Linked DNA regions of Homo sapiens. The gene in region 7 interacts genetically with the main gene of each other region. Each region holds a gene or a part of one and is shown on either strand. Other genes may lie near its edges. The genes, in order: TKT, LUC7L2, CSE1L, SNRPF, WDR83, TBCD and KRAS.

Evidence for each region.
Region 1: changes in KRAS (region 7) and TKT are lethal when combined (synthetic lethality), as found in Homo sapiens cells (2 studies listed by BioGRID, with this or other methods).
Region 2: changes in KRAS (region 7) and LUC7L2 are lethal when combined (synthetic lethality), as found in Homo sapiens cells (2 studies listed by BioGRID, with this or other methods).
Region 3: changes in KRAS (region 7) and CSE1L are lethal when combined (synthetic lethality), as found in Homo sapiens cells (2 studies listed by BioGRID, with this or other methods).
Region 4: changes in KRAS (region 7) and SNRPF are lethal when combined (synthetic lethality), as found in Homo sapiens cells (3 studies listed by BioGRID, with this or other methods).
Region 5: changes in KRAS (region 7) and WDR83 are lethal when combined (synthetic lethality), as found in Homo sapiens cells (3 studies listed by BioGRID, with this or other methods).
Region 6: changes in KRAS (region 7) and TBCD are lethal when combined (synthetic lethality), as found in Homo sapiens cells (3 studies listed by BioGRID, with this or other methods).

The regions. Positions count from the first base shown.
Region 1 is NC_000003.12:53,227,970-53,232,577, forward strand, and holds part of TKT (transketolase), read right to left. Parts: intron 3,582-4,608; coding exon 3,388-3,581; intron 2,653-3,387; coding exon 2,488-2,652; intron 1,468-2,487; coding exon 1,311-1,467; intron 1,169-1,310; coding exon 1,038-1,168; intron 391-1,037; coding exon 307-390; intron 181-306; coding exon 87-180; intron 1-86. UniProt on the Homo sapiens protein: Catalyzes the transfer of a two-carbon ketol group from a ketose donor to an aldose acceptor, via a covalent intermediate with the cofactor thiamine pyrophosphate.
Region 2 is NC_000007.14:139,414,582-139,419,189, forward strand, and holds part of LUC7L2 (putative RNA-binding protein Luc7-like 2), read left to right. Parts: intron 1-2,880; exon of another isoform or gene 2,881-2,956; coding exon 2,957-3,148; intron 3,149-4,608. Other genes in the region: FMC1-LUC7L2 readthrough protein, read left to right, coding at 2,957-3,148. UniProt on the Homo sapiens protein: May bind to RNA via its Arg/Ser-rich domain.
Region 3 is NC_000020.11:49,094,039-49,098,215, reverse strand, and holds the end of CSE1L (exportin-2), read right to left. Parts: intron 4,077-4,177; coding exon 3,930-4,076; intron 3,485-3,929; coding exon 3,253-3,484; intron 2,041-3,252; coding exon of another isoform or gene 2,029-2,040; exon of another isoform or gene 1,868-2,028; coding exon 1,778-1,867; 3' UTR 1,267-1,777; downstream 1-1,266. UniProt on the Homo sapiens protein: Export receptor for importin-alpha. Mediates importin-alpha re-export from the nucleus to the cytoplasm after import substrates (cargos) have been released into the nucleoplasm.
Region 4 is NC_000012.12:95,864,296-95,867,748, forward strand, and holds the end of SNRPF (small nuclear ribonucleoprotein F), read left to right. Parts: intron 1-1,028; coding exon 1,029-1,093; intron 1,094-1,709; coding exon 1,710-1,776; 3' UTR 1,777-1,845; downstream 1,846-3,453. Other genes in the region: CCDC38 (coiled-coil domain-containing protein 38), read right to left, coding at 2,781-2,894. UniProt on the Homo sapiens protein: Plays a role in pre-mRNA splicing as a core component of the spliceosomal U1, U2, U4 and U5 small nuclear ribonucleoproteins (snRNPs), the building blocks of the spliceosome.
Region 5 is NC_000019.10:12,672,806-12,677,176, reverse strand, and holds the end of WDR83 (WD repeat domain-containing protein 83), read right to left. Parts: intron 4,331-4,371; coding exon 4,263-4,330; intron 4,170-4,262; coding exon 4,061-4,169; intron 3,976-4,060; coding exon 3,861-3,975; intron 1,655-3,860; coding exon 1,505-1,654; 3' UTR 1,386-1,504; downstream 1-1,385. Other genes in the region: DHPS (deoxyhypusine synthase), read left to right, coding at 1-69, 1,035-1,160, 1,244-1,339. UniProt on the Homo sapiens protein: Molecular scaffold protein for various multimeric protein complexes. Acts as a module in the assembly of a multicomponent scaffold for the ERK pathway, linking ERK responses to specific agonists.
Region 6 is NC_000017.11:82,940,082-82,944,689, reverse strand, and holds part of TBCD (tubulin-specific chaperone D), read right to left. Parts: intron 3,292-4,608; coding exon 3,207-3,291; intron 3,201-3,206; exon of another isoform or gene 3,185-3,200; coding exon of another isoform or gene 2,636-3,184; exon of another isoform or gene 2,613-2,635; intron 2,542-2,612; exon of another isoform or gene 2,242-2,541; coding exon 2,227-2,241; 3' UTR 1-2,226. Other genes in the region: uncharacterized protein LOC124904095, read right to left, coding at 2,636-3,184.
Region 7 is NC_000012.12:25,243,322-25,247,929, reverse strand, and holds part of KRAS (GTPase KRas), read left to right. Parts: intron 1-2,534; 5' UTR 2,535-2,545; coding exon 2,546-2,656; intron 2,657-4,608. UniProt on the Homo sapiens protein: Ras proteins bind GDP/GTP and possess intrinsic GTPase activity. Plays an important role in the regulation of cell proliferation.

The DNA.
Region 1 (4,608 bases), on a different chromosome or scaffold from region 7:
AGAACAGAAAGAACGAAAGAAAGAACCCCAAGACCTAGCATGCAGTGGCCGCTCAGTTGATGACTTTGGAGGCCCCTTCTCCTCACCTTTCTTCAGCAGTTCGGCAGCGGCCAAGGCCTCGTGCAGGGTCACCCCAGCCCCGATAACGGTCACCTGGTCATCCTTGCTCTTCAGGACCACCTGGGGGTGACACAGAGGGTGAGTAAGGCTCAGGGCCCTGGGGCAGGGTGTGCCCTGACTGCTGGGAGTCACAGCAGGGAGGGTCCAGGCAGCTCTGTGGGCTCCTGGGGCATGCGAGGCACTGACCTTGGCTTGTCCGACCTGGAAGTCCTCATTGTTGTTATAGATGATGGCATTTTCTGGGCGGCTGGTCCGGATGAAGCAGATACCCTGAGACCGAAACAGATAAACTGAGGATACAGGATGTGGCACACCCAACCTCAGAGACGAGGTCTTTCTAGAGAGGCCATCCCTTCCCATGGGAGCGTTAGTTACTGCATCCTGGCTACTCCAGCAGGGAAAAGGGCCTTGCTTGCCCTCTGCCGCCCGCACCCCACTTGAACACTCTGAGAACTGCCCACCACCTTGCAGCCTCAGACCGAAGGCAACTTTCCACCAGGTAGACTGGCTGCAGGTGGGCTACTCCCACAGACTGCACCAGGCAGAGGGGCAGGAACCACGCGCACTGGGTCTGTGGCATGCAGCTCCGGGCCTGGACCACAGGGCTCAGCTCATCCTTGCCTGTCTTGGAGAACCCAACTCAGGAGGGTGGAGAGGTGTCAACCGCTGGACCGGCCAGGGCTGCCAGGATTCTCAGCAGAGACAGACTGGCAATCAGTTGACAATGTCTGCCACGTGGCAGTAAGTGGGGTGTGTATTTCGTTTTTTCTTGTCTAACTTCCACAAGCTACACGAACACCAGGGGCAAGGTCAGGAAACACCCCCTGGGGCAGCAAGTGACCAGCTCTGGCCTCCTCTTCTGTTTCCCTTGGGAAGTGATGGCTGCCAGCAGGAGAAAGAACAGCCATGCAACCTACCTTTGTATTGGCGGCTAGTTCCACTGCCTTCTCTGTAGCAACGCCATCACTTGGGTAAAAGACAGTTGATGTGGGGACTGACCGAAACATAGCCAGATCTTCTAGGGCCATCTGGGAGGGCCCGTCTTCCCCTGGGGTGTGGGGGAAAGGATATGCAGAAATAAGACCCCTACCCCCCCATCCATGGGCTGGAATCCTGGCCCATCCCCCTCCCATACCTCCTGGTGCAAAAGTCAAGGGAGCTCCAGGTGTAAACACCCTGGCTAAACTCACCGATGGAAACGCCGCAGTGGGAGCCGCAGAGGTTGATGTTGCTCTCGGAGATGGCGGCCATGCGAATCTGGTCAAAGGCCCGCGTGAAGAAGGCTGCAAAAGTGCTGCAGAAGGGCACCGTCCTGTTGCGGGTGGCACAGCCCACCGCGATGCTCACCTGGGGGCAGGTGGGACAGGGTCAGCCCAAAGGGGCAGGCAGAGGGTGGTCGGGGAGCCTAGGACCCCTTTTGTGGAGAAAGCCACAATTTGTATATAGATTGTCCATCCTTTCTGGGCTTCTGAATATGTCCCCCACCACCTTCTTCTGCAGAGACCGGTCCTCCCAACCCCTCCCTGGGGTCCGAGGGCAGCAGCCTCATGCCTGCTGAGGCTCCAGGCCCCAAATCACTCATCCAGAAGCAGCACTGAGTACAGTCATCAGTTCCAAACCAGCTGCCCTTCAAGGCTCCAAAATCTGCCAGCCAACACAAGGCCTCTTTCCCTAGTACCTGGGACCTCCCCAGCCCCACGCCCTGCAGAGCAGTCTCTGGAAACCACAGAGAGAATTTCAGGTCCAGTTGGAAGAACTCTGGAGATCTGAGTGCCCTCCAGAGAGAGGAAGCTCCCTGTCCCTAGGGGCCTGCAAGCCAGGCTGGGCTCCTGGACCACCAGGAGGGGATATTTTGAAAACATGGACAAAACATTGTTCCTTACTTCACAACCTCAGTTCCTGACAAGGGTCTGCTTCCCCAAATGGGTACATGTCAGGGGCCCAGAGTTCCCTCATCTCTGCATCCCTCAGGGTGGCAGGGCCCAGAGCCGTGTGCATTACAGGTGCTCTACAGACTCGGGCTGCTAAACCCATCACGGCCCCACCTACTGGCCAGGCCTGTCCTCCACCTGGAAGAGACCCCATTCACCACCAGGCCTGGCCTGTACGCAGCTCCTCCTGAGAGCACCTGCAGTCCCATTCGGCTCCCCCATGTGCACACCTGTCCAGGACATTTGCACCTGGGCAGAACCTCCCAAACTGTGGCTGTTCAAGGTCAGGGGTTAACGCTGGGTCCTGGCTTTTCTTATAGTCTCCCTGGGCTGGCCTACAGCAGGCACCTGGCTCTGCCAACATGGCTGCCCCGCACCCCTCAGACCACAGCCCTCAGCCTTGGGTGGACCTGTCCCTGCCGGCCCCAGCACCTACCATGTTCTGCTCAGCAATGTAGCACTCGATGAAGCGGTCCGGGTGCTCCTTTTTGAAGATCTCCGAGAAGGTGGAATTTTTGGTGTCCCCATCCAGGGCGATGATGCGGTCACTGGCATGGCCCAGCTTGGCCAGTGCCTGCCCGTAGGCCTTGCGGGTGGCTATCTGTGAGGAAGAGAGTGGGAAGGCTCTGGACCCCTCTGAGGGTGAGTGCACACCTGCAGCCTGGAGCCCTGCTTTCAGAGAAGGATTAAAACGGGGCCAAAAATGGAAGCCCTGGAGCACAAGGTCCTGCAGAGGCTTTTAACTGCTGAAAGGTTGCCAACGACTACGGTCAATGTCTTGGGAGCCCCTGGAGCCCCGGCCCCTTCTGGCTGTGAAAGGTATAAGCTACAGAAGACACCCACCAGCCCCAACTTCCCGCCTGCTGCACCAGGTCCATGAACCTATTCCACTTTGCATGGGAACACAGAAGGCTTGGGAGTCAAGGCCAGGCACAGGCTGCATGGATGGGTTCCCTTGGGACAGAAACCTGGAGTGGGACAGCTCTGCCTAGCCTTTCCCAGGTCAGGTGGGGGTCCTGAGCTCAGGCCAAGGGTCCCTCGTGGACCAGCGATGCAAGAACTTGGGAGTGAGTCCTTGGCTTTGATCTCAGTTCTGTCAGTAGCTTGCTAAGCTTGCTAAGTGGGCAATTCCCTTGCCCGGTCTGAGCCTCTGCAGGTCAACTCCAGAGATGTCTGTCATTCTGAGGGAAGTGACAGGAACAACACCTCAGGGATCACTCCTCGCCCTAAATGAATCGCTCTCCTCCCTTTCCCAGCCCTCCAGAGGGTGTATCTGGGCCACAGACTTGGGAAACCTGAGAACTATGGGTTCAGAGAAACAGGCCCCACTTTGTACCTTGTCCCCAACTTTGTAGCTGGGCAGGCTGGGCATGCGGATGTTGGCAATGTCCACTGAGGGTGCGTCCTCCTGTGGAGGGGTTGCCAGGATCTTCTTTTTGCTCTGGATCTGGCTGTAGATCTCCTGGATGATCTGCTCAGCCATGTTTTTGGGGAGGGGCTTCCCATGCCAAGACTCCTTATCTTCTACCCCTGCAGACCCAACACGGGAGGACAGAGGAATGGGTAAGACAGAAGCTCCCAGAGGGCCAGGAGGCTGCTCCAGGAGACTGGCCCTCTACCTGCCGAGGGCAAGGGAGGAATGGCATCATCCCAGACAGGCAGAGCCCAGCCAGGCACGGGGGCCAGGAAAGGAGGGTCGCAGTGAATAGGATGGACTCCTACGTGCCCACCACTCACTGTCTACTGCCTGGTCCTTTGGGAGCTCACAGCTGAGTGGGAAAGGAGGGGCCAGACGTGGGCAGGTGTGTGTTTCTGGGCCCACTGCCCCATCCCTTCACCAATGTGTCCATTCTCTTCCTCCCCACAACCCCGCCTGCAGGGTCACACACAGGTAGAGGTGTCTGCTGCAGAAATACTCAGTTTGTCGACTGGGTTGGAAGGGACCCTGGCCATCAGAAGGGGAACCCAAGGCCCAGAACAGGGCTTCCAGGGTCACCCAATGCATCTGTGAGCAGCAGAGGAGTCTATAAGCACCTAGGCATGCCCACCCCATGGCACCTTGTTGTGTGCGGCCAGGAAGGCTGAATATCCCTCTCCCTGGAGGTCACCTCAGTAGTCACTAGAGTCTGGCCAGAGCCAAGAACAGACTGAACTCCCAGGTAGCACCCAGCAGCCCGAAAGACTAGCAGGAGCCCCCAAGAAGCTGCAAGTGGTCCAGATCCTGCCCATTTTTAACACCAGAGGGCAGTGCCAGGCAGCAGCACCAAAGCCATGACAATATCCCAGAGCCCTTTCCTCGACATCCACCCCCTCCCAGACACCTCCCAGCACTGCCAAACCCCCACTCAGAACATCCTCATATACCTGAGTCTACATGGGCAGAACAAGCCACAACCCCTGAGAGCAGGCAGGTGGGCAGCCAGGGGCATTTGGCAGGGAAGCCGACCCAGGCCCTGGGATCAGCCCCCCTCGTGCCATAGACTTCCTCTGTCCCCGGGCAAGTCCCTGACCACTTGTAGTCTCATTTTCCCATCTTTAAAATGGGTGAGGCCATCCC
Region 2 (4,608 bases), on a different chromosome or scaffold from region 7:
AGCCTTCTAGTTTGAATGATAAAGTACCTGGTCATCCTGCCTGTAAGACCCTGATATTACTTCCTTTTGCTCACTTCATTCCAGCCACACTGGTCTTTTCCTTCAACATGCTGAGCTTTTTCCCACCTCAGGGACTTTGCATCTGTGTTCCCTCAGCCTGAAGCACTCCTCTCTGAGATGACTGATTCACTTGTTCCCTTTCTTCTTTCAGCTTTGCTTCAGTGCCAACCTATCAGAAAAGCCTTCCCTGCTTATTCCGTATAAATATTTCCACTCTTTTCTCTTTTTCCACTCTACGTAATAACATCTTTTAATTTTTTTTTGAGACGGAGTCTTGCTCTGTTGCCCAGGCTGGAGTGCAGTGGCAAAATGCCAGCTCACTGCAACCTCCGCCTCCCAGGTTCAAGTGATTCTTCTACCTTAGGCTCCCTAGTAGCTAGGATTATAGGCACGTGCCACCATGCCCTGCTAAGTTTTTTTTTTTTTTTTTTTTTTTTTTTTTGTATTTTTAGTAGAGTAGGGGTTTCACCATGTTGGCCAGGCTGGTCTTGAACTCCTGACCTCAAGTGATCCGCCTGCCTCAGCCTTCCAAAGTGTTGGGATTACAGGCATGAGTCACCATGTCCAGCAATAGATCTTTTTTTTTTTTCTTAACCACCTGACATATCTTTATTTACTGCCTACAAACCTGTATAGATCCCTTTCTATAGTATAAGCACTAAGTTTAGTGCAGGAACTTTGTTTTACTTGCTACTCAACCTCCCCTAGTATAGAACAGTGCAAAAATACCTAGTGAATATTTTTTGGATGAAAAAATTACCTAGAATTTTTAAAAAGATGAATAAAGTTATACATTGGAAGAAATGGCATTCATAATAACTCAAAATGAGTGGTTAAACGAAGTATGATTTGATAAAACTTACACTGAGAGTTTTATATTTTTTCCCTCTGCTTCCTTTTGGAATTACTCTTTTCAGCTGTGGAAATAACGCTTTTTTTTTTTTTTTTTTTTTGAGACAGGGTCTCACTCTGTCCTGAGTAGCTGGGACCACAGGCGTGTGCCACCATGTCCAGCTAATTTTTAAAAATTTATTGTAGATACGGGGTCTCCCTATGTTGCTCAGGCTGGTCTTGAACTCCTCCCGTTTAAGGATTAAGCAGTCCTCCCATTGTGGCCTCCCCAAGTGCTGGGATTACAGACACAAGCTATTGTGCCCAGCCAGAAATACTCTTTTTAAGTGTGGCTAAAGCTACGTCCATGTCATGTACCTTTCTTTGACTATAATGTTGACATAAGCTGAATGCCTTTTAGCATCGTTCATAACAATCAGTTGAAGATAAACTGTATTTGTAAACTATCTCATATGTATAATATGATTTTGAACTTGCTGTATCAAATTATGAGCAAACCTCACATTCTTAAAGTGACTTAAATTTAAGAGTTTTATTGAGGTATAAAATATATATATATATATATATATATATATATATATATATATATATATATATGATTTACTCTGAAGTCAGTGATTTTTTAGCAGATTTAAAGCTGTGCAACTATCACCATAATCCAGTTGAGAACATTTCCATCATTCTTAAAGTGACTCTTCTAACAAAGTTGCATTCCTTTGTTTCCCCTTGTTTTCTGTCAAACGTTTATGTCCTCTCCATGCCATTTCCACCCTCACCATGCACCCCCACCCACCCCACAAGTTAGTTTGTGACCTGGTGGAGGCTATAAAAGTGTCTTACCTTGTGGGTTTTTTTCTTTTCAAAAAATGTCTTTATTTTGCCAGCACCTTGATCGTATATTTTCTGGTTTTTCAGAATGTTTTTCGTTCTCTATTTCTGTGTATTCATTAGAAATACATTTTTTTTGCAATCTGAGTCAAGTTCTCAAAAATGATTTTCGCAAGTGTTCTTTCTCCCAAACTGTTTGCTCCTTGAATAGAGAACTGTCTTACTGTGTTTGTTTTGTCTTGCTCTCTATTGCCCAGGCTGGAATGCAGTGGTGTGAACACAGCTCCCTGTAGCCTTGACTTCCTGGGCTTGGGTGATCATCCTTCCTTAGCCTCCCAAAGTGCTGGGATTAAAGGCGTGAGCTACTACCCCTGGCCCTTACTCTGTTTTGATTACACTGTGACTAGACATGCATATTGTGGGCATTAAAAACTTACTTCTATGGTTATCTCACCTTTCTAATTCAGACAAAGAGTAATTTGTCCTGACGTATTCTTCCTCATCTCTTCTCTTCCCTTCTGTCCAGGTCTGTCAGGTACATATTTAATTTCTAGAGGATACAAAAATGTTCAAGATATTTAAGTGCAATTAAATTCATAACAAATCTAGATAATATAGCCCCTGGCATATAGTAGTGGTTCAAAAGTTGCTTTCACTTGAAAAACTATTTCTGATAATAAATTTATACATTACTGATTGCTCTCTGAGAATTATCAATCAGTGTCTTGTTTTTGAGACAGAATTTCACTCTTTTGCCCAGGCTGGACTGCAGCGATGTGATCACCAGGTCATTGCAGCAGCCTTGACCTCCCTGGCTCAAGAGATTCTCTCACCTCAGCTTCCTGAGTAGCTGGGACTACAGGCATGTGCCTCTGTGTCCAGCTAATTTTTGTATGTTTTATAGAGACAGAGTTTCGCCATGTTGCCTAGGCTGGTCTTGAAATCCTGAGCTCAAGCGATCCTCCTGCCTCAGACTCCCAAAGTGTTGGGATTACAGGTGTGAGCCACGGCGCCTGGCTGAGAATTATTAATGTTTTATTTTGAATTCTAGTATGTAGTTATTAACACACCAGCAATTCAGTGTAGATTTAGCTGACTTGGAATATAATTGACATTAAGACTACTGAAAAAAAGTTTCTCTTTAAAGAAAAGGCTTTAATAAATGAGAAATATAGTAATTACAAAGGTAGAAACAAAATCAAATCTTGTCTGGTAGATCCAGGTCCAGAGAGCATCGCAGACATCGATCTCGCTCCATGTCACGTGAACGCAAGAGGAGAACTCGATCCAAATCTCGGGAGAAACGCCATCGCCACAGGTCCCGCTCCAGCAGCCGTAGCCGCAGCCGTAGCCACCAGAGAAGTCGGCACAGTTCTAGAGATAGGAGCAGAGAACGATCCAAGAGGAGGTATTGATGTGTCAATCAGAGGATATGGAGCTACCTTAATGTTTTAGAGTTGTTTATGTTTACTTATGTTACTTATGTTTAGAGTTCAGATTATTGGTTTGAAACTTTTGCATCTGGTAATATGTACACATTTATGTGTGGGTGTACAACATTTTTCTGTGATTATATGGGTAGTTTTGAAAGAATATACTTATGAGCCAGAGCAAGAAATTGGAACCAATATGTGTAGAGGTTATTGCTTTTCTCTGCTTAGTGTGTCTTGGAAAAAAGTTCTTTACAGGTAAATAATTTTAAATACCAATACCCTTAGTATGGATCAGCAAATTAGGGGCTCTGAGAAGTCCTTTCATTACAAGAGTTGTTTAGCTTTGATTTATTGTTTTCTAAACTTATTTGAGCTGGGATGCTTTTTCAGAGCAGACACATTCTAGTATATTCTTGTTTTATCTGCACTATAGATATGTATTGTTACATACCTTCAGCTTGGCAAGGCAGACTAATAAGGAGGTTCCAAGACTTCCCTTGGTTTAATGAGAACATTCAAAAGGTGCAGGCATAGGGTAAGGTATGTTTGAGGACTTGAATATCTATTAAGGATAGACAAAGGATTATAATGTGGTAGAAGAGTTTAGCATTCATAGTCTGTATAGATCAAACTGTCAAAACTTCTCAGGTCACATGATGGCCCTTAAACCAGGTAATTTCTGTGTAACGTAAGCCATGTTTAAAATTGCTTTTTTCTTGACAACTATTCAGAAGTATATGTATGATAAACATTTTTTGAGTGCCTAGTACCTACTAGTCTTACATATTCTGTGGATTACTCCACATAAAATCTATAATAAAATCCACAGAAAGCTGTTAAAATCTTTCCTATTTTTTTTTGACTCAACTTTCCATTCCCTGAAATCACTCACAAGCTGAGTTTGTTAATAGGCTCTCAATATTTTATTTCTTATATTCTGGCCTTGTTTTTAGTATTTCTTAAGGTGATTTTAATAATAATTAATTGTATATGTTTTACTGTACTAGACTTAGTAAAACATAAGAAAGACGTATAACATAGTTGAACAACTTTAAGTTGCTCTAAGAAGTTTCCTATGTGAGGCTGGGTGCCATGGCTCACGCTTATAATCCCAGCACTTTGGGAGACCGAGATGGGCGTATCACTTGAGATCAGGAGTTCAAGACCAGCCTGGCCAACCAACCCCATCTCTACTAAAATACAAACATTAGCCGGGCATGGTGGCACATGCCTGTAATCCCAGCTACTCAGGAGGCTGAGGAAGGAGAATTGCTTGAACACAAAGGTGGAGGTTGCAGTGAGCCAAGATCGCACCACTGCACTCCAGCCTGGGTGACAGAGCGAGACTCCAGCTCTCAAAACAAAAAAAAACAAACAAAAAAAAAAACAAAAAGTCTCCTATGTGAGTTAGAACAAAGGATTGACATCTTTGACA
Region 3 (4,177 bases), on a different chromosome or scaffold from region 7:
CCCAGCACTTTGGTAAGCCGAGGCAGGCGGATCACAAGGTCAGGAGTTTGAAACCAGCCTGGCCAACATGGTGAAACCCTGTCTCTACTAAAAATACAAAAAATAGCCAGGCATGGTGATGCATGCCTGTATCCCAGCTACTCAGGAGGCTGAGGCAGGAGAATCGCTTGAACCTGGGAGGCGGAGGTTGCAGTCAGCTGAGATTGTGCCACTGCACTCCAGCCTGGGCAAGAGTGAGACTCCGTCTCAAAAAAAAAAAAAAAAAAAAAAAAAAAAATTCAAAATAAGAAAAACCATTCGAGTCAAGTGCCTAAGATTAAAAAAGTTATCACCAGGCACAGTGGCTCACGCGTGTAATCCCAGCACTTTGGGAGGCCGAGGCAGGCAGATCATGAGGTCAGGAGTTCGAGACCAGCCTGACAAATATGGTGAAACCCCATCTCTAATAAAAATACAAAAATTAGCTGGGCGTGGTGGCGGACGCCTGTAATCCCAGCTACTCGAGAGGCTGAGGCAGGAGAATTGCTCAAACCCAGGAAGTGGAGGTTGCAGTGAACTGAGATTGTGCCACTGCACTCCAGCCTGGTCAACAGAACAAGACTCTTATCTTGGGGGTAAAAAAGAAAAAAAAAAGGGATATCGATAACTCCTGTGACAAATCACTTGAGCTGGGAAGACAAAAGTTCCAGTTTAACTACACTGAATGGACAATGAACAATTCCAGCATAAACTGTGCCTCACAAAATTTAGATATTCTGATTCTTCATTCCTCAGAAACGAATGCTGTACAATTCCATGGGCCAGGCCAAGGGAGGGAGCCAGTGCAACCAAGCTCACCAGGCATCCGGCCGGATCCACCACTGGACTGGACTTCACGGTTCTAAGGTGTCAGGGTTTGAAAAGTTCCAAGTAACCTCCACTCTCCAGGGAACAGCAGAGATGAAAGAGATCAAAACATCCACAGTCTCAAGTACTCTCGACCGCCATCCCATTAAGCGAGGCAGAGCATTTCTCCCAGAGGAGCCACCTACCCAAAACTCACACTGCCACCTAGGAACTGCTACAGAAAATTCTAGTAAATAAGCCCCAAATCTATATTAATGTCCCCTTCCCCCATATAAAAAAAAAGACTAAATAATCTGAGTTTACATGATTTAGAAATTAGGATTTTACAGAGTCCAGGAAAGGAAAAGGAAGAAATTTAAAGAAATTCTTCATTTTTATAAAAGCATGAGAGAGCACTGAAAACCTGCCCTTAAGATGTTCTTAGGTACATATTTTAGGATTTTTATTGCTGATTACAGATTTGAAACTATGAAATGTGCACTGCTTGGCAAGTAACACAAGTAATTCTTTACTTATTCACATTTCCAATAAAAGCGTAAATAAACAGACAAAAAATATAAAGGACAAGAGAAATACAAATAGCAACAGCTTCAAAACAAAAGGATTTAGTAACAGAAAGTCTCCACAGTGTCCGTCAAAATTTAAGATTATCCAAACCGTGCAAACGCTCAACACAAACCAACGCCATACACTGAACTATTAATACTTGTCCCTTGAAGTTGCAAACTAGAAGCCACCCACATAACTGTATGATCACACAAACCAACTAATTTGCTCAAGGTTCAGGTTAAAGCAACATTTAATATCCTTTACAAGATGGAATTCGTGACAAGTTCAAAAGGAGAACTTCCTTTGTTTTAATGCAGCTGTGCTCAGAAGCCTGTGATTTCCTAGGAAACCATCTGGGTTTAGCCCATTAGAAAAATGCAGTTTAAAGCAGTGTCACACTGGCTGCCTGAAGGTACCCTTGGAGATACTGGAGCGCTTCTGCATTCAGGCTGGTGCTCACCATTGATGGAACCTACAAGAGATGGGAAACACACACTGGCTGTTGGAGATCTTGGTGCGCCAATACAAACCCCATCTTCTACGGGAGAGCTGCCACAGCTCTGGGAAGAGCAGCCAGTCAAGTCATTAATCACCATCCAAAAATTCTCCAGAAACTCAACTGCTTTTATGCCTTCAAAAATAGGTCTAAAGAAAAGATCCATAAGGAATTACTATTATTAGGTGTGATAGTGGTATTGTGGTTAATTAAAAAGTCCTTACTGGTTAATGATGTAGAATAAGGTACTTACGCGTGAAACGTATGATGTCTAAGACTTGCTCAATACAGAGAATAAAAGGAGAAACGAAACAAAACTGGCAAGATATTGGTAATTATTGAAGCTGGGCACATGCAGGCTTCATTATGCTCTTTCTATATATGTTTGAAAGTCTCCGTAATAATACAATGAAAAAATATATATACATATATATACACACGCCACACACATATATGTTTTTTAAGAAACGGGACCTCGCTCTGTTGCCCAGGCTGGATTGCAGTGGCACTGTAATAGCTCACTGCAGCCCTGGCCTCCCAAAGCACTAGAACTACAGGCATAAACCACTGTGTCTGGCTTGAAAAATATATATTTTATCAGGTAACATGTAAGAACTCTATAATAAGTGCTGACAAAATGCAACTATACAGTCATTATTAGGTTTATGCCATGATCTATTAATTTCTGAGTATGCTGCAATTAAAAAAAAATAACTGTGTCCAGGCTCACACTTGTAATCCCAGCACTTTGGGAGGCTGAGGGAGGAGGATGGCTTGAGCCCAGGAGGTTGAGACCAACCTGAACAACATAGGGAGACCCTGTCTCCACAAAAAAATAAAAAATTAGCTGGGCATAGTGGGTCCTAGCTACTTGGAAGGCTGACAGGCAGTAGGATCACTTGAACCTGGGAGGTTGAGGCTGCAGTGAGCCATAATCGTACTACTGCATTCCAGCCTGGATAAGAGTGAGACCCTGTCTAAAAAAATAAATAAATAAAAATAAAAATAAAAAAATGCTACCACATTTTAATAATAGATGGATTACTTCGATCTGGGAAATAAACTCTTATTATAAAGTGCTGACAAAATGCAACTATACAGCCTTATTACATTTCTATTGAAGGGATTTTTCCTCCTTTGTTCTCACTCCTAAATCCATTCACTTAAAATATATTTGTAGTACATAATACAAGAAAAAAAGGGCTCAGTGTTTTTAATTAAAGAAAATAAGCTTGCTGTAACTCAATGAGATTTAGTTTTATTACGCCCACCAATGAAAACAGACACCAGAACTACTACTATCCTTTTGCCCTCCCATTAAAGTCTCCATTTATCACAGAGTTCTTTGACAACACACTTACCCTTCCTGGACAGGCGGTAGACAACTTGTGAAGTGACTGTGCCAGGTGAATTTTGGGGTTATTCACCATTTGACCTACAGGATCATGCTCTTTTTTCCCAGCAAATGCCAACTGTGAGAAGGCAGTCTGATATCCTGGTGTATCTTCTATGTCAATAAAATGTTCCTCATCAGGAATGGTATCATCTTCGGGTAACTCAAAAAGACCAATCAAAGACTGTAATAATGGAGTCCTGGATTGGAAGAAAGCAAGAGATAAAAAGGTCAAGAAAATACTCGGAAGACTTAAAACCAGCAATTGCTCAGAGACACAAAATTACAGACTCATAGTCTCAAGAATAAAAGGGGACCTTTGAAATTAAGATGGTTCTTTTCTTGGCTTATTCAGTTCTTCCCCTTAAAGATAAGTCAGTTTAGTTGGGCTTCTGTCATAAAATTGTCTTAGAGATCACCTAGATCAGACTCTTAAAGGGGTCCATGAATCCCCCTGAAAAAGAAGCAGGAAACAAGATCATTCTAAGCCCAGAAGGATCCAGAAATCATGTCTTGGATCTGATTGTGGAGAAGCTGAGATCAGACCAAGATTCTCTTGGCCCCCAAGAGAATAAGCTTTGTTAATTTTGCAGTCATATGGGAAGGAAGCTGTAACTTACAAAAATATTAAAATGAAGTACTTACCACAGTTTGGTATACTCAGTGTCCATCATTGGGGGACATTCTGTTAGTAATTTGGTTATGCCAACCGCACAGATCTTTTTCTCTACATTTCCAGATACCTTCTGAATTTCAGGAATAATAATTTTTTCCAAAACCATTCCAAACATTCTATTAAAGCAAAATAAATCAACTTAATATTAGATTATCACTATAATGAAATAGTAAAATGCTTAGATGTTAGTTACTTCTTATGAATATGATAAATTACT
Region 4 (3,453 bases), about 71 Mb from region 7:
CCTCTCTCCCATCACTCCTTAGTTCCTTCTCTGAGTCCCAAGTGGCATTGATTGTGATTTTTCTTTTAATTACAAGTAGAGCTTGTTACCTATATGTAGAAGGAAAGCTAAACATTTTGATATAAAATTAGAAATAATTCACCAAAATAACTGTAGGTAAAGTAAGAAGAGCTCAGACATTCGATTCATAATAATACCATAAGGGAAACACACTACTTTGCTGTAGTTCACCAAAATAGCTGTAAAGGTCACTGTTAACTATTTACCTTTCTCTTAAGAACTTGTTTTTCCCTGTTTATTAGTACATAATTAAAAATTCTTATTCAGGCCCAGATGTGATAGCTTATGCCTGTAATCCCAGCACTTTGGGAGGCCAAGGCAGGAGGATCACTTGAAGGCAGAAATTCAAGACCAGCTTGGGCAATATAGCAAGATCTCATCTCTACAGAAAAAATTGTTTCGAAGTAGCCAGGCTTTGTGGCACATGCCTTTAGTCCTAGCTGCTCAGGAGATTGAGGCAGGAGGAGCCCAGGTGTTCAAGGTTTTGGTCAGCTATGATTGTGCCACTGCATTCCAGCCTGGGCAACAGAGGGAGACCCTGTTTCTTAAAAGACAGGAAAAGAAGAAAATTCTTACTCAATTATTTGCTTTGGTTGTTGACTAATATAAAAGTATTTGGCATGTTAGCCATAGCTTTCGTATACCTATTTGGACACCTCAATATGAGTTAGAGACTGCCTTCTTCCACACACTGTTTTAATATCTAATAGAAAGAAATATTACATAACCTGGGAGATTCAGAAACTTATGTTGAAACAAGCTTTGAATATTAATTTCGTTGAAGGTTTATATGAAACCAAAAGTACTACAATAGTAATAGAAAGCTCATCTTCTGTTTATTAATTATAGATAAATTTGAGTTGTTGGTATAGAAAGGTCTCAGTTAATGAGTTCTCTCACCAATATTAGCTGTATTGTAATATTTTCCTCCTGTGTGATTATACTAATATATTTCTTTTTATTGAAAGCTTGCAAATACAGAAGAATACATAGATGGAGCTTTGTCTGGACATCTGGGTGAAGTTTTAATAAGGTAACAAACAGCAGTAGTATATGTAAGGAGTTACTGGTGAGCATTAGGAATACCTGTTCTAAATATATTAGTGCCTCAATTTTGGAATTACTTTTTTTTAAAAAATCACTATTATAATACTTTACAGTTAGACTTCAGAAGTCTTTGAAATTGTTAAACTTGTCAAAGGTAAGTTTTCAAATGTTTTGGAACTGGCCAAAAGATTTTTCTAGTGTTGATGTTTAATTTTCTAGCTCTTAGCTATAATCTTTTGCAGTGGCAACCTTTTGCAGTGGCCTTTGTTGCGGGAACTTAGTTTTGAATTTTAGTTGGGTCTGGCTGTTTTGTTATATTGATTTTCTGTACTAGCTTCAAAGCTCCAAATTCTGGTAATTATTTCCTTTGGAAAATCATAAAGATGTCATTTTATAACAACCATATGGTGGAAAATAAGTGCCATGTGCTTTTCAACAAATCTATGTGAAACTTTTTTTTAAAATGAATATATTTAAAAAATTTTTTTAAAGACAAGAATATTATAAATATAGTATTCAGTATTTTCATAATAAAAATATAGTAATTCATATCATACATGGTTTCTGGTTGGAACAACAAAATCGACTTTTTCTATTTACAGGTGTAATAATGTCCTTTATATCAGAGGTGTGGAAGAAGAGGAAGAAGATGGGGAAATGAGAGAATAGCATCTTTTGTGGGGGATTTTTTTTATATATATTTCTAGACAATAAAGATTTGTTTGTTTTTCAACTTGACTTGTGAACTATTTGTATTCAGATATTTACAAGCAAAGCTGAAATGATGAACCAATTGGGAAAGATTACTCACTGAACTAATGCTTTAAAAGCCACTGAATTTCATTTAAGTTGCTTTTCTTTTGTAAGCCCAATATTCTTTTTTTTCCCATAAAGGATAATTATTTATATGCTTTAGATATTTTTATGAAGGTGAATTTCAGACCTTTTCTTGTAAAATTATCTATTAGCTGAGACCTTTTAAATGCAACTTTTTCTTTTAAAGTTATTTTTGAGCTACTTTTAACGTATAAAATTAAACATTTTCTTGGTATTAATAATATACTGTCTTATTTTACTTAGTAGTCAATAAATTACATGTTAATTCTGTGTCAATATAAGCTAAATGCACATATTGCAGCTAAAATTGAAGCATCTTCTAAAAATTAAAATGATTGTACAGACAGGGCACAACAGAAATTGGGAACTGACATTCAGGCTGAAGGCATACGGTTTGTTCACTGAAGAGAAAAAAGTTCTCTGAACAAAATGTAATGTCAAATAAAAACCAGTCTCCCCATTATGTTCTGAGACATAACCTCGAGGTTGAGTTTTAAGCCCCTCAAAACCCTTCAGGTATTTTAGGGTTGTACATTGTTAAAATGTATAGTCCATAGTAATAACAGTATGCTATGAACTTCCCTACAGATGGGTTGAGAAAATACATCATTTACATTCTCATGTTGTAAGAGAATGGCCATTATTACACTTCAGTGTTCATTTACCATAGTTTTATCAGTAAACTATCTTTGTGTATCCCCAAGTGGGACAACTCAAAGTATAGAAGAAAGTGTTTAGCTATATGGAATAATACTTATGATATGAATACTTAAAGACTTAAAATTTACAAAATACACCTAAGACATTCTGGTAATAAAATGTCTTACTGCTTTTATTCAAGTAAAAAAATATTCTTCCTCTTGTGATTTTGTTTTTGTTTCATTGACTAAAGGTAGCTGCTGTTTGTTACCAGATGGAGGTTTTGAATGAAAGACAAGTCGTCTTCCCAACTGAAACAAAAGAAAAACAAAATACTTAATATTTTTTGAGCATAGCCATTTTCTATTGAAATTTGTGAAATACCAATATTAACTTGATTTTTACAAGGAATAATATGGTTTGTAACATTAACTAATCACAGTTAAAAGGGACTTATAACCTAACGGATGTCTAACATGCTAGGCAAAGTTGAGTAGCAAACTGGACACCAATAACTATGCAGAAGGAACAGCAGTTAGGTTTTATTGGGAAGTGGGAAAACTTAGGTAAAGTCATCAAATAGTATATGGTTCAAATGTGGTCAGCCTAGAAAAGCACCATGTTGAAGGCCACCATTTTATTTCTCAGTAAGTGCCATAGCCAGTTTTTCGTCCATGGTTGGAAGAGATGGCTTTCTCCTGTTGAGCACCTGACTAGCATTTAGAAATCTTGTTAAATAAAAAGTCCAGAAAACCATGTACCATCTTGAATACTGGTTGGCTTCTGGAGGTGTTCCCAACAGAAGAGGCTTTGGGAAACCCCGAGTTCATACCTATTCATTCTCTCTGGGTCATATATACTCAAATATAT
Region 5 (4,371 bases), on a different chromosome or scaffold from region 7:
AAGTGCACTGGGATGATCATTCTGGGCGGGGGCGTGGTCAAGCACCACATTGCCAATGCCAACCTCATGGTGAGTGGGGGTGGCGCTTCGGCCCACTCTGCAGACATGCTGTGTGGTGGGCCTATGCCATGTGCTGGGTAGACAGCATGAACTAGACAGGCCAGGATCCCTGCTCCCCGGGACTGATGTTCTAGTAGGGGAGATAGCAAACAAGTGACATCCACGTCAGGGGGCAGTCATTGCTACGGGGAATACTAAATGATGGCATGAGAAGAGAAAGGGGTGCTGTCCAACAAGAGGTTTTGGAAGGAGGCTTCTGGAAGTGTGAGCTGGGAGCAGGGGTTTGGGGAGGCATCTCCCAGGAGCTATGTGGTTGTCTCCCGTGCCAGGAGTTTGTGCTGCTGTACTAGCATTGAGCTTCTGGATTGCAAAGTTCCCAGGAGAGGGAACAGCCATTGCAAAGGCTCTGGGGCGCCTGAAGTAATCCAGGAACAGCTGGGTACCTGGTGAGGGGAAGGTGGAGTGGTGAGGGCCAGGAGGTGATGCAGGGAGGTGCCACAGGGAGCCTGCTGGGCCCTGTGGGCTGAGGCGGGGCTTTGGCTTTTGCACTGAGAGAAGTGGGAGAGGACTTGACTCGGGTTCCCATGCTCCCCCTGGTGGCCATGTGGTGAACAGATGGTGGCAGGTGAGTGAGAACTCCAGTCCAGGACAGTGGTGACCATGCAGGGATCAGGAGGCAGGCGGTGGTTGGATTTGGAGGGCTTCTGAAGATAGAGTTGCTGGCAGCTCCTGCCTTGCAGATGGGGCAGGGTTGTTGACACCTGGCTGTTGGGTCTGGGGAAACACAGCCATCGTTGCCCAGCAGCTCTAGTGACCCCAGACATTGACATGGGCCCTGTCTGGGAGCGAATGTCTGTGAAGGGCTTCCTTCATCTGGGACACACCTCTCAGCCTGTTTGGCTACGGTGTCCTCCCTCTGTGTCTGTCTCCTGTGACTGGCTGACTGGGCCCACCGTGCCCCCGCCTCCCCACAGCGGAACGGGGCCGACTACGCTGTTTACATCAACACAGCCCAGGAGTTTGATGGCTCTGACTCAGGTGCCCGACCAGACGAGGCTGTCTCCTGGGGCAAGATCCGGGTGGATGCACAGCCCGTCAAGGTAAGCGCTGGCTGGGTGGGGCATAGGGTCTCTGGGACGATGAGTGTGGGTCCCATGGCTTACCCAGGTTCCCCCCTACCCAGGTCTATGCTGACGCCTCCCTGGTCTTCCCCCTGCTTGTGGCTGAAACCTTTGCCCAGAAGATGGATGCCTTCATGCATGAGAAGAACGAGGACTGAGCGGCTGCGGTCCCAGGAAGGTCTTACCCCCTCTTCTATTTATTAATTTGCAGACCCAGCCCCTCCCCTACTTTTTGGTCAGCTACGTCTCTAGAATAAGATGGTATCTGAAGTCCTTCCATGTCTGTGTCTCGGTCCTTGGTCCTGTTGGTGGGTCCCCTGGCTTCAGCCTGCTCCATCCTCTGCCTCATAGGCCTCCTCTCGCCAGCACTGGACGCTGCCTCCCATGGCGGTCAGCAGGCAGGGCTCTGTTGGGTGGTAGGCCAGCGACTGCACCACACCGGAACCCACAGGCAGGGCCAGAGCCAGCGCACCCTGTGGAGCGAGGGGTAGGGAGTGGTTATCTGTGGCTGGGCTGTACCCTGGTTTCTGAGGTCCCTGGGCACCCCCCATCTCAGTCCTGCCTGAAGCCCTCAGTCACCTCTCCCCGACCTTCAGCCACCTGCCTCTAATTGCCTCCTAGACACTGCAAAATTAATCTACCTCAGACTGAGCCCCTCAGTAGCTCTGTCCTACCAGGTGTTCAGGCCGCAAGTCTTGGGAGCCTCTTATTGATTTTTTATTTTTTAAAATAGCAGAGATGGGGTCTTACCATGTTGCCCAGGCTGGTCTCGAACTCCTGGCCTCAAGTGATCCTCCTGCCTTGGCCTCCCAAAGTGCTAGGACTACAGGTGTGAGCCACCATGCCTGGCTTTGGGAGTCTTTTTCTTTTTCTGTTTTTTTTTGAGATGGAGTCTTGCTCTGTCGCCAGGCTGGAGTGCAGTGGCGCCATCTGGGCTCACTGCAACCTCCGACTCCCTAGTTCAAGCGATTCTCCTGCCTCAGCCTCCCGAGTAGGTGGGATTACAGGCACGCGCTACCATGCCCAGCTAATTTTTGTATTTTTAGTACAGATGGGGTTTCACCATGTTGGCCAGGATGATCTCTATCTCCTGACCTCGTGATCCACCCCCCTCGGCCTCCCAAAGTGCTGGGATTACAGGTGTGAACCACCATGCCTGGCCGGGAGTCTTTTTCTTGTACCACATGTTCCTCTATCAGTTATTCCTCTTGGCTCTGCTTCTAGACCATGTCCAGAGACTGCTGATTTTCTGCCACTACCATGTTTGGAGCATGCCTTGCTCACAGCTTGCCTGTTCCCTGCCACCAGCTGGGCTCCATCCTGTCCATTTGGCAGCCCCAATGATCCCCACTTCCCCTGGTCCCAACACAATGTAAACAGTTCCTCAAGCAAGCCATGCTTCCTCTTTCCACCTTGAAAATGTCCCTTGATGTGCCTGCCCTCCAAGGCAACTTCTGTTCTACTGGGCCCATAAGAAATAGGTGGAACATTCTTGCTACCTTAGTTCCTAAAGCAAGAGCTTGTCCGCCAAGTCTTCAGGGCCCCCCCGGTTCCCTCCATCCTCTTATGGGCCTTAGTTCCCCTGGCCAAGCCCAGCGCTGATGTCTCCTTTGCCGAGATTCCCCCGGCTCTGACCCCACTACACCAGGATGGTCTGTTTCTGGCCTGACTCCCCACCAGGCTGGGACATGTCAAGGACAGGGCTCAGGGCTTGAAACCATGCACAGGGATGCTAAGATGTAGCTCCAGTTTCTTGAATGACTGCAGCCCTATCTCACCCAAGGTTAGACATGGCCGTCGGCTCCCCCTTGCCCAGGGGTCAGTGCCAGTTGCTCGGCCTGGCATCTGCAGCCCAGCCTGACCCCGGATCTTGCCGCACCTGCCGCCACCCTGAAGCCTTTGTTTCCTGACTGATGCATGCGCAGGCTACACCTCTTAACATATGCTGTTCCCTTTGCCTGGAATGCCCTTCCTGCCTCATCTTCTCTCTAGCCCAAGCTGGGCACGGTGTCTCAGGCCTGTAATCCCAGCACTTTGGGAGGCCGAGGCGGGTGAATCACTTGAGGTCAGGAGTTTGAGACCAGCCTGGCCAACATGGTGAAACCCTGTCTCTACTAAAAATACAAAAATTAGCCAGGTATGGTGGTAGGGGCCTGTAATCCCAGCTACTCAGGAGGCTGAGACATGAGAATCACCTGAACCCTGGGGGGAAGAGGTTGCAGTGAGCTGAGATGGCGCCACTGCATTTGCCTGGGCAATAGTCTCAAAAAAAGAAAAAAGGGCCGGGTGTGGTGGCTTACGCCTGTAATCCTAGCACTTGGGAAGGCTGAGGTGGGTGGATCATGAGGTCAGGAGTTTAAGACCAGCCTGACCAACATAGTGAAACCCTGTCTCTACTAAAAATACAAAAATTAGCTGGGTGTGGTGGCACGCACCTATAATCCCAACTACTCAGGAGACTGAGGCAGGAGAATCGCTTGAACTTGGGAGGCGGAGTTTACAGTGAGCCAAGATTGCGCCACTGCACTCTAGCCTGGGCGACAGAGCAAGACTTGTCTCAAAAAAAAAAAAAAAAAAAAAAAAAAGATCCTAGCCTTCAGGCCCTGGAGTGACTGAGGTAAGGACAGGGCTGAGATGGGGCAGGCATCTAGGTATGAAGTAGGGCTGGGGGCACCTCACCTCCACCAGGTCCCAGAAGAACACCTTCCCGTCCTCAGAACAGCTGACCACATGTGTGTCACGCTCGCTCAGGCAGCAGTCCAGCTTGTATTCCTGGTTCTTATGGCCCTTGTACCTAAGGGTGGACAGGATCGGGGGGCTTGGTCCTCTCCAGGGGTGGGAGAGGAGGGAAGGGGATCCCCACGACCACAAGGACTCACTCGCCCAGCAGCTCCCCTGTGTCTTTGTCCAGGAGCCGCAATGTGGAGTCCAGGCTGGACACCAGGGTGCACTGCCCATCCCGGCTGAAGCAGGTGCAGGTGATGGGGCCTTGGGGGAAGGGTGGGTAGGTGAGTGAGGGTGGGGTGCCCCTGGTTGGCCCCCCATCTTCCCTGCCTGTCCCACATCCCCAGCCACACTCACTGCCCACGTAGTCTGAGAAGAGCTGCCCCATCCTTAGGTCATAGCGTCTCACGCGGCCATCCACGGAGCTGCAGGAGAGGGTAGATCCAGCGGGAACCTTGACTACACT
Region 6 (4,608 bases), on a different chromosome or scaffold from region 7:
CAGCTCCCCGGTCCCAGGGATACTGGCTTCTTGCTGCTCTCTAAACTCACAAAGCTTGCTCCACTTCTGGGACCACAAGCATTCTCTTTTCTGCCATTGGACACAGTCTGGACCTCTGCCCAAATGCTGCCCCTTCAGAGAGGTTTTCTGAACACCTTCTCGGAGTCAACACCCAACATGCCATTCCATTGCCCACTTTATCTTTGTTCATAGCACTCAGTGTTGCCTGCCTTGATGGTGCTTGCTTGTTCATTTGCTATTGTCTGCCCCAGCTATCATGTGAGCAAGGGGTTCCTTGCCAAACTCTATCACCTGGACCCTGGTGGGCTCCAGAAACGGCTGCTGAAAGAGGGCTTTCCAGGCCACCAGGTGTCTGGTGAGCACAAGTGCCCCAGTGATGGATGGGATCCAGTGGGAAAGAGGCAGTGGCCAGTGGAGTGATCCACTTTCCTCGGGTTGCTAAGTTAGACCGACATTAAAAGAAGAACTGCTTTGCCACATAGTGTCACTGATGGGTCTGGGTGGGTAATCGACCTGCCTCCATGTCTTAAAATGCCATTTATCTGGAATCTTCTTTTAATTGCACTAAGAACAGTTCATCATGTTTTTCTCAGAAGCCACTTGTTCCTTCCATCCTCAGTGCATCCCAGGCCAGCAGGAGCTTTGTGAGCTGCAGGCATGGCGATGGTGCGCCTGTTCCACACCCAGCAGGCGCAACCAGAGTCTCGTGTGTGCCGACCACAGGAGCCAAGCCTTTTCCACTGTGTGGACTCATGTGGCCAAGGCTAGGCCTGGTCACCCAGGACCCTCACCACGTGACCCCAGCCAATCGGGACAGTTCAAGGAGGAGGAGACCCCTATTACACAGGTTGGAATAAAATATTTAAATCTCGTAAAAATGTAACCCAAGGCTCTTTTAGGGTATAAAGACCATTGGCCACCAGGTCAAACACAACAACAGTAGTGTGTTAACCCCACACTCCTGTGTGGCCAGGTCGTCACACACATCCCGTGAAGAGCTGTCTGCTAAACACACAGCACGGACTGTCACAGTCCTGGTCTTGTGGTCCTGGTGACCTCACAAGCCTCACAGATGCGGTGGCACCTCCCAGTTCTCGGCCTGCCCATGTTCCTGTGTCCAGGCCCCATCCCCACCTGAGAGCAGGCCAGGGAGCCACCCTAATCTACACCACGCACATGGCACCCCTGGGCTCCTCACATAGGGAAAGGGTTGCTCACCCAAGCCCTTGGGCCTCTGAGTGGCCACACCTGGGGCTGCTTTGGTGCTGCTGGCCGTGGTTCTGCACCTCAAGCCCTATGAGCACAGCACAGGTCCCAGAGATGGGTGTGGGTTGCTACCACAGTGAAATTTTTATACACGTTCCCCTCACCAGCTTTGGGATGGATCAGCACGAGCTCAGACACAGAGACAAAGGTAGCCTCCTGCCCTTTGCCTAAAAACCCAAGTGTGGACTCTGCCCAGGCTCTCCTAAGACAGTGTAATTATTTCAAGAATGGTATTTATTTCCGACATTACTGTAGAGGCACACATTGGACTCTGACGATTCCCCTTGCAGCAGACATTTGTGAAGCTGCTGGTCGGCACACCCATCAATCAGTGACTCCTGCACTGCAGAGGGGCCACATGCACGATGCTCACGTGTGCACAGGGGGGAGGACAGCACCCCCACCAGGCAGACGGGCCCAGAAACAGCATCTGCCCAGCACTCCAGACCATGCCTGCCACCAGGGCTTCTCAGTTCTCTAGCATTTGAACCTCTGATTTAACATTCATCTCTCTCCAAGACTGGGTGGGGCACTGCCTGTGGCCAGACGTCTCCCACAGCAGGGACAGCACCAGGCAAGAAGGGGGCCTGGTCTCCAGGCAGGAGGAGTGCAGCCCACCTCCCCTCTGGCTGACCCCTGGGCAGTGAGCCTTTCCATCACCCCTACACACATCAGGCTCAGAGACAAAAGGCAGGAACTTCTTGGTACATGATTTTATAGGAAGCACATTTGTGTTCAAGTGAAGGCAGAGGCGTCCACCCCAAGTCACCAGAGCGCAGGTGCAGAGAGGAAAAGCTGTCAGCTAGTGCCAGCCTCCAAGGGCCAGCGCTACCCTTCAACAGCTGGAGGCACCACTGTGCGAGGCTTTCCACACCGGCCTCCCTCAGGAACAAGACATCCTCACCAGGCAGGGGTGAGGTATGGGCTCCAGGACTGGCTTCAGCAGGCACCAGGCTGAAGAAGAGACAAGACAAGCTCAGGCTGGTCAGCTCCAACACACACCATTCCCAGCCAGGGGACCCTCACCCCTCTGGGCCCTGTGTGGGGACTGACACGGTTCCTGCAGGAAACCATTTGTGCCGTTTCCCACACACCCGGCAGCCTGAGCTATGTGGCTGACAGGTGCTCATGACTAACGTGTCCTCGGAAGGGCACCCCATCTGGGGAGCGGGAAGGGAGGTTCACTGCACTGCTCTTAACCTGCATTCACACGTTTGAAATTTTTCCTAATAAAAATGTAAAAAGCACATTTAATTCCAAAGTCTGCTGTTGAGTTCAGCCTTTACACACACAGAAATGGGGGAGGCTGTGTCCTGATGCTCAGCCCATCCCCACTGCCCCCATGTATCTAGACATGGTTCTCCTCCTCCCTCTCAGATATAACCTCCTGCCGGAAGGAGGCTGAGAGGAAGGAGCCAACCCTGGTAACTAGAGAGACAGCACAGCAACCCTGGGCCCCAGCCCCCGAGAGAACTGAGGTACTTGTTTTTGTTACTTTAGAAGAGTGACGGGCTGGTGAGGTGCACAGGGGCAGCTTCTGGGGGCCTCTCACCCAGCCCCGGCCCCACTCATGGGAAGCAGATGAGGAGGGGTAGGGTGGCACTCTTGGCACTTGGAGCACAAACAGACCCCAGGGCCAGGCATGAGGAGCCTGGATCAAGCTGGTGCCAGCTCCACCCACTCCCCGGCCCCCCAAACGCCCCAGAGCAAGTGGCCTGGATGCCACAGGGGCCCACAGGTGTGGGCAGTGGCCAGAGAAGGCAGCTCTGCTGGTCCCGTAATCCCAGGGGTCCTGACATGAGACGAGGGAACGGGCCGTGTGGACGTGCTGGCAGAAGCTAAGCACAGCCGCTGGCCCCAGAACATTCCAGAGCTCAGGGAAGCACAGGCACCTCATGCTGTGAAGGTGACAGGGTTACCTGGGGCACCAGCTGGGGCCTGGGTACGCCCAGAAGGTCACACAGACGGTTGCGCTGCTCTCTCACCACTGCAAGCTCCGCGTCCCTGTGAGGAGAGGGAGAGCCGTGAGTCTCTCGAGTGCCCACCGGAGAACCTCAGGTGTGCGGAGGTCCCGCGTCAAGCTTCCATGGCCGCAGTCAGGGAAAGGAGACCTCACCCCCGACATCCATAGCCAGGCTGAGGGCAGAAAAGACGTCACAGGAGCACGTTCTCCAGCAGAGCCTCGAGCCTGAGCCCTTTCCGGAATCGCAGGAGGACGGTTCCTTCCCAACAAGGGGTGCCCCTCGGGAAGGACCACGCCCAGCGCAGGGACTGCGGGAGGACAGACCAAGCGAGGCCAAGGAGGGGCTGACAAGGGTTTTCCAGGTTTTAATTTAGCTGTTGATGCGAAATAAAAATTCTAGCAATGCTGTGGAGATATCTGGGGCATGTTTTTCGTTTCTAATTTAAAATATTCTCTTTAAATTCTAAGGATTTTTTTTTTTAACAGAAAGGGGATTAAACGATAGGAGAAGCCCCCAGGCCCACCCTGCTAGTTCCTCCCTCCCTGATGTGAGGAAAGGAGGCCACCCCGACCCAGCCTCGCTGGAGGAGGCCTCGCCCCGCTCGGGACACCTGGCTTCTTCAGTCCTAAAGCCAATTATTTTAGAATCTGGTCCAGAATGCACCTTGGTGTTTTTTTTTAAAAAAATCATTGTAAAAACGGGTCTCCAGAGCAGTAGTTAAGATGGCCATTCTCTCAACGCATGTTGAGAAGACAGCCCAGCTGCTCCCGGTTCCTCTCCTGGGACCACGTGTTTGTTTAGGAGCAGACACACACTCCTCCCCAAACCAGAAAACCTCGCGGAAGCCCTGGAGAGGCCACCTCTGTCCTCCGAGGCCACAGCGGCTGCCTGGTGCGTGAGCTCTATGGGAACCCAGCCCTGTTGGAAGGTCACTGTTCCGAGGAGACACCTAGGGAACGTCACCTACGTCCTTGCTGGATTCAACAAGGGGCGTGGACCCCACAGACCTGTAGCAACGCACCGGGATCAGCACGGAGGCCCTCACAGTCGGCACTCAAAACAGAGCAGCATCCACAGGCAGGACACCTGGGACTCCACCACCCCGGGTATGCCATGTGGACACCCACACAGCCTCTGGTTGCTTCAGTCCTGATCTCCAACACGGGGTGACGAGACTGCTCCCCTTTTAGAAGTGTGTGTGTGTGTGTGTGTGTGTGCGCGCGTGCAAGTGAGCATGTGTGTGAGCCAGCATGGGTGCCCATGCCCATATGTGTAAGACACCATCACTGCTGTTCCCAGGAACATACCGGTTGGCCCAGGACACCTGAGCCTGCACTTTCCCCACTCTGCTCTCATT
Region 7 (4,608 bases):
AGCCCATTACTTGGTAACATGAATAAAATATTTTATGAAAAATAACTATTTTCCAAAACAAAACCAAAACTTAGAAAAGTGGTATTGTTTCACACTTCAGTAAATCTCTTTAATGATGTGGCTTAATAGAAGATATGGATTCTTATATCTGCATCTGCATTCAATCTATTATGATCACACATCTGGAAAACTTGTGAAAGAATGGGAGTTAAAAGGGTAAAGGACATCTTAATGTTATTATGAAAACAGTTTTGACCTCTTGCACACCAGAAAAGTCTTAGTAACCTGAGGGGTTCCTAGACCACATTTTGAGAACTGTTTTAGGCTATGCAAACTGGTTGGGGGGAGGTTGGGGTAGGCAGAGAGCTAGAAGATACATTTTAGTGTAATTCTCCTCATCTATTCCTAATTGCTTTGGCCTACATTTGAAATAAAGCGTGGAGGCAAACGGGATAAGATACATGTTTGTAGTGGTTGTTAACTTCACCCTAGACAAGCAGCCAATAAGTCTAGGTAGAGCAGAGTAAGGCGGGGAACTATGCCGTGACCGTGTGTGATACAATTTTTCTAGCCTGTGGTGCTTTTTGCGGCAGGGCTTAGGAGTAAGGTTAGTATGTTATCATTTGGGAAACCAAATTATTATTTTGGGTCTTCAGTCAATTATGATGCTGTGTATATTTAGTGTTTATCTACAATATATGCACATTCATTAATTTGGAGCTACTCATCCTATAATAAATAGTTGTGCATTTACTCCCATTTTTTTCTGCATTTCTCTCCTTATTTATAATTATGTGTTACATGAGGGAAAGGAGGTGAAATTAAACATTCATATTATTTCAAAAAATTTGAAACAACTAACTAAAAAATATGTTTTATTTTCTGTATGGTGTTTGTTATACAATCTGTCAATATTCATGCACCTCTTGGGAGACAGTGTATGAAAAGCAAAGAGTAACAGTCACATGGATTACTGATTACTGAGATATATTCACTTGCATCTTTTTTTTTTTTTGAGACGGAGTGGCTCTGTCGCCCAGGCTGGAGTGCAGTGGCGTGATCTCGGCTCACTGCAAGCTCCGCCTCCTGGGTTCACGCCATTCTTCTGCCTCAGCCTCCCAAGTAGCTGGGACTACAGGCGCCCGCCACCACGCCCGGCTAATTTTTTTATATTTTTAGTAGAGACGGGGTTTCACCGGGTTAGCCAGGATGGTCTTGATCTCCTGACCTCGTGATCCACCCTCCTCGGCCTCCCAAAGTGCTAGGATTATAGGCGTGAGCCACCGTGCCCGGCTCACTTGCATCTCTTAACAGCTGTTTTCTTACTAAAAACAGTGTTTATCTCTAATCTTTTTGTTTGTTTGTTTGTTTTGAGATGGAGTCTTACTCCGTCACCCAATCTGGAGTGCAGTGGCGTGATCTGGGCTCACTGCAACCTCTGCCTCCCGGGTTCAAGTGATTCTCCTTCCTCAGCCTCCCCAGTAGCTAGGACTACAGGAGAGCGCCACCACGCCTGATTAATTTTTGTATTTTTAGTAGAGAGAGGGTTTCACCATATTGGCCAGGCTGGTCTTGAACTCCTGGCCTCAGGTGATCCACCCGCCTTGGCCTCTGAAAGTGCTGGGATTACAGGCATGAGCCGCCGCACCCGGCTTTCTAATCTTTATCTTTTTTTGTGCAGCGGTGATACAGGATTATGTATTGTACTGAACAGTTAATTCGGAGTTCTCTTGGTTTTTAGCTTTATTTTCCCCAGAGATTTTTTTTTTTTTTTTTTTTTTTGAGACGGAGTCTTGCTCTATCGCCAGGCTGGAGTGCAGTGGCGCCATCTCGGCTCATTGCAACCTCGGACTCCTATTTTCCCCAGAGATATTTCACACATTAAAATGTCGTCAAATATTGTTCTTCTTTGCCTCAGTGTTTAAATTTTTATTTCCCCATGACACAATCCAGCTTTATTTGACACTCATTCTCTCAACTCTCATCTGATTCTTACTGTTAATATTTATCCAAGAGAACTACTGCCATGATGCTTTAAAAGTTTTTCTGTAGCTGTTGCATATTGACTTCTAACACTTAGAGGTGGGGGTCCACTAGGAAAACTGTAACAATAAGAGTGGAGATAGCTGTCAGCAACTTTTGTGAGGGTGTGCTACAGGGTGTAGAGCACTGTGAAGTCTCTACATGAGTGAAGTCATGATATGATCCTTTGAGAGCCTTTAGCCGCCGCAGAACAGCAGTCTGGCTATTTAGATAGAACAACTTGATTTTAAGATAAAAGAACTGTCTATGTAGCATTTATGCATTTTTCTTAAGCGTCGATGGAGGAGTTTGTAAATGAAGTACAGTTCATTACGATACACGTCTGCAGTCAACTGGAATTTTCATGATTGAATTTTGTAAGGTATTTTGAAATAATTTTTCATATAAAGGTGAGTTTGTATTAAAAGGTACTGGTGGAGTATTTGATAGTGTATTAACCTTATGTGTGACATGTTCTAATATAGTCACATTTTCATTATTTTTATTATAAGGCCTGCTGAAAATGACTGAATATAAACTTGTGGTAGTTGGAGCTGGTGGCGTAGGCAAGAGTGCCTTGACGATACAGCTAATTCAGAATCATTTTGTGGACGAATATGATCCAACAATAGAGGTAAATCTTGTTTTAATATGCATATTACTGGTGCAGGACCATTCTTTGATACAGATAAAGGTTTCTCTGACCATTTTCATGAGTACTTATTACAAGATAATTATGCTGAAAGTTAAGTTATCTGAAATGTACCTTGGGTTTCAAGTTATATGTAACCATTAATATGGGAACTTTACTTTCCTTGGGAGTATGTCAGGGTCCATGATGTTCACTCTCTGTGCATTTTGATTGGAAGTGTATTTCAGAGTTTCGTGAGAGGGTAGAAATTTGTATCCTATCTGGACCTAAAAGACAATCTTTTTATTGTAACTTTTATTTTTATGGGTTTCTTGGTATTGTGACATCATATGTAAAGGTTAGATTTAATTGTACTAGTGAAATATAATTGTTTGATGGTTGATTTTTTTAAACTTCATCAGCAGTATTTTCCTATCTTCTTCTCAACATTAGAGAACCTACAACTACCGGATAAATTTTACAAAATGAATTATTTGCCTAAGGTGTGGTTTATATAAAGGTACTATTACCAACTTTACCTTTGCTTTGTTGTCATTTTTAAATTTACTCAAGGAAATACTAGGATTTAAAAAAAAATTCCTTGAGTAAATTTAAATTGTTATCATGTTTTTGAGGATTATTTTCAGATTTTTTTAGTTTAATGAAAATTTACCAAAGTAAAGACCAGCAGCAGAATGATAAGTAAAGACCTGTAAGACACCTTGAAGGTCATGGAGTAGAACTTCCATCCCAAGCAGATGAGGATTTATTTAATCTCAAAGACCTCCAGGAGGGGACATTCCCCAACTGTCCTTGTTAACTCATTTTCAGAACATATTTATTAGCATATTTTACATGTAATTTGGATCTTCATGTTAAATTTAACATCAGTGGAGATGGAAAATAAGCATATCGCCTTGTCTTTGAAATAGCCCTATATTGTTAGATTGTTTCTTAGGCTTCTTTACCCTGGGTTAAGCAGTCCTAATACTTTAGCATTTATTCTACATCTAGTGTACTAATTTAAAAAAATCAGTTCTGAAAAATTTCTAAGAACTTTCTTCAAGTTCCAAGCTGTGAAATCTAGAACAGGTCAAAGTGCCTTATTAACGTACTGTACTGTGTAGTGTCTTGAAGAGACACTTTGCGCTGAGGCAAGTTCTGAGGGCATTGGGTGGCCTTGGGAAGATATTTATGCAGTTTAGAACCTGGAGAATTGATTAGATAACTAATCATAAGGAAACGTCACATATTTTTGGTACTATAAAAAAGTGGAGAAATAATGCCTATTTGCAAAGATTTGATTTAAACATAGAAACAACTTTATTTGGCTTCCAATTTTAAGAATTTACAGCAGTAAAGGGGAACAGTCTAATTGAAGTAGACTGCCTATGCAATAGTCTCTGTATATTTACTTTTGACAAGTTAATTCAATGTGTACTATAGTTTTGTTTCTTTGAAGAGGTTTGAATAGTGCACCCATTTTAATCTGTATTGCAAATTCAGGGTTACTTGGCAGACTCTACTATTTAAATCAGATGTAAAAGGAAGTTTTAATATAATTCACTTTATGCCTGAAAGTTTTCCTGGGATTTTGGAAGGTGATTTTACTGGAAATGCTGTCTGTCTTCCCTGAAAATCTGAGAAATTCCATTACACTTTGTTTCCAATCAGAGGTCATGAGTGCTATATGAGTATATACAGCATGACGTCATGAATGTGATAAAGTGGGTTAGGAAACCTTTTGCTAATGATTGTTAAAATGCAATATAAATGTTGAAGAAATAAAGCTAACAGTTAAGCCTTTATTTGGGCGGAAGGCTGAAAAAGTTTATAAACTTAAACCTATAACTCTGCTTATGATTTCTGCCAAACCAGAAGACTTGACTCTGGGAAGCATTGGTTACCTGTGAACTTTGAAACTGACGGTCCCTGACGTAGTTTAGTCACCTGGG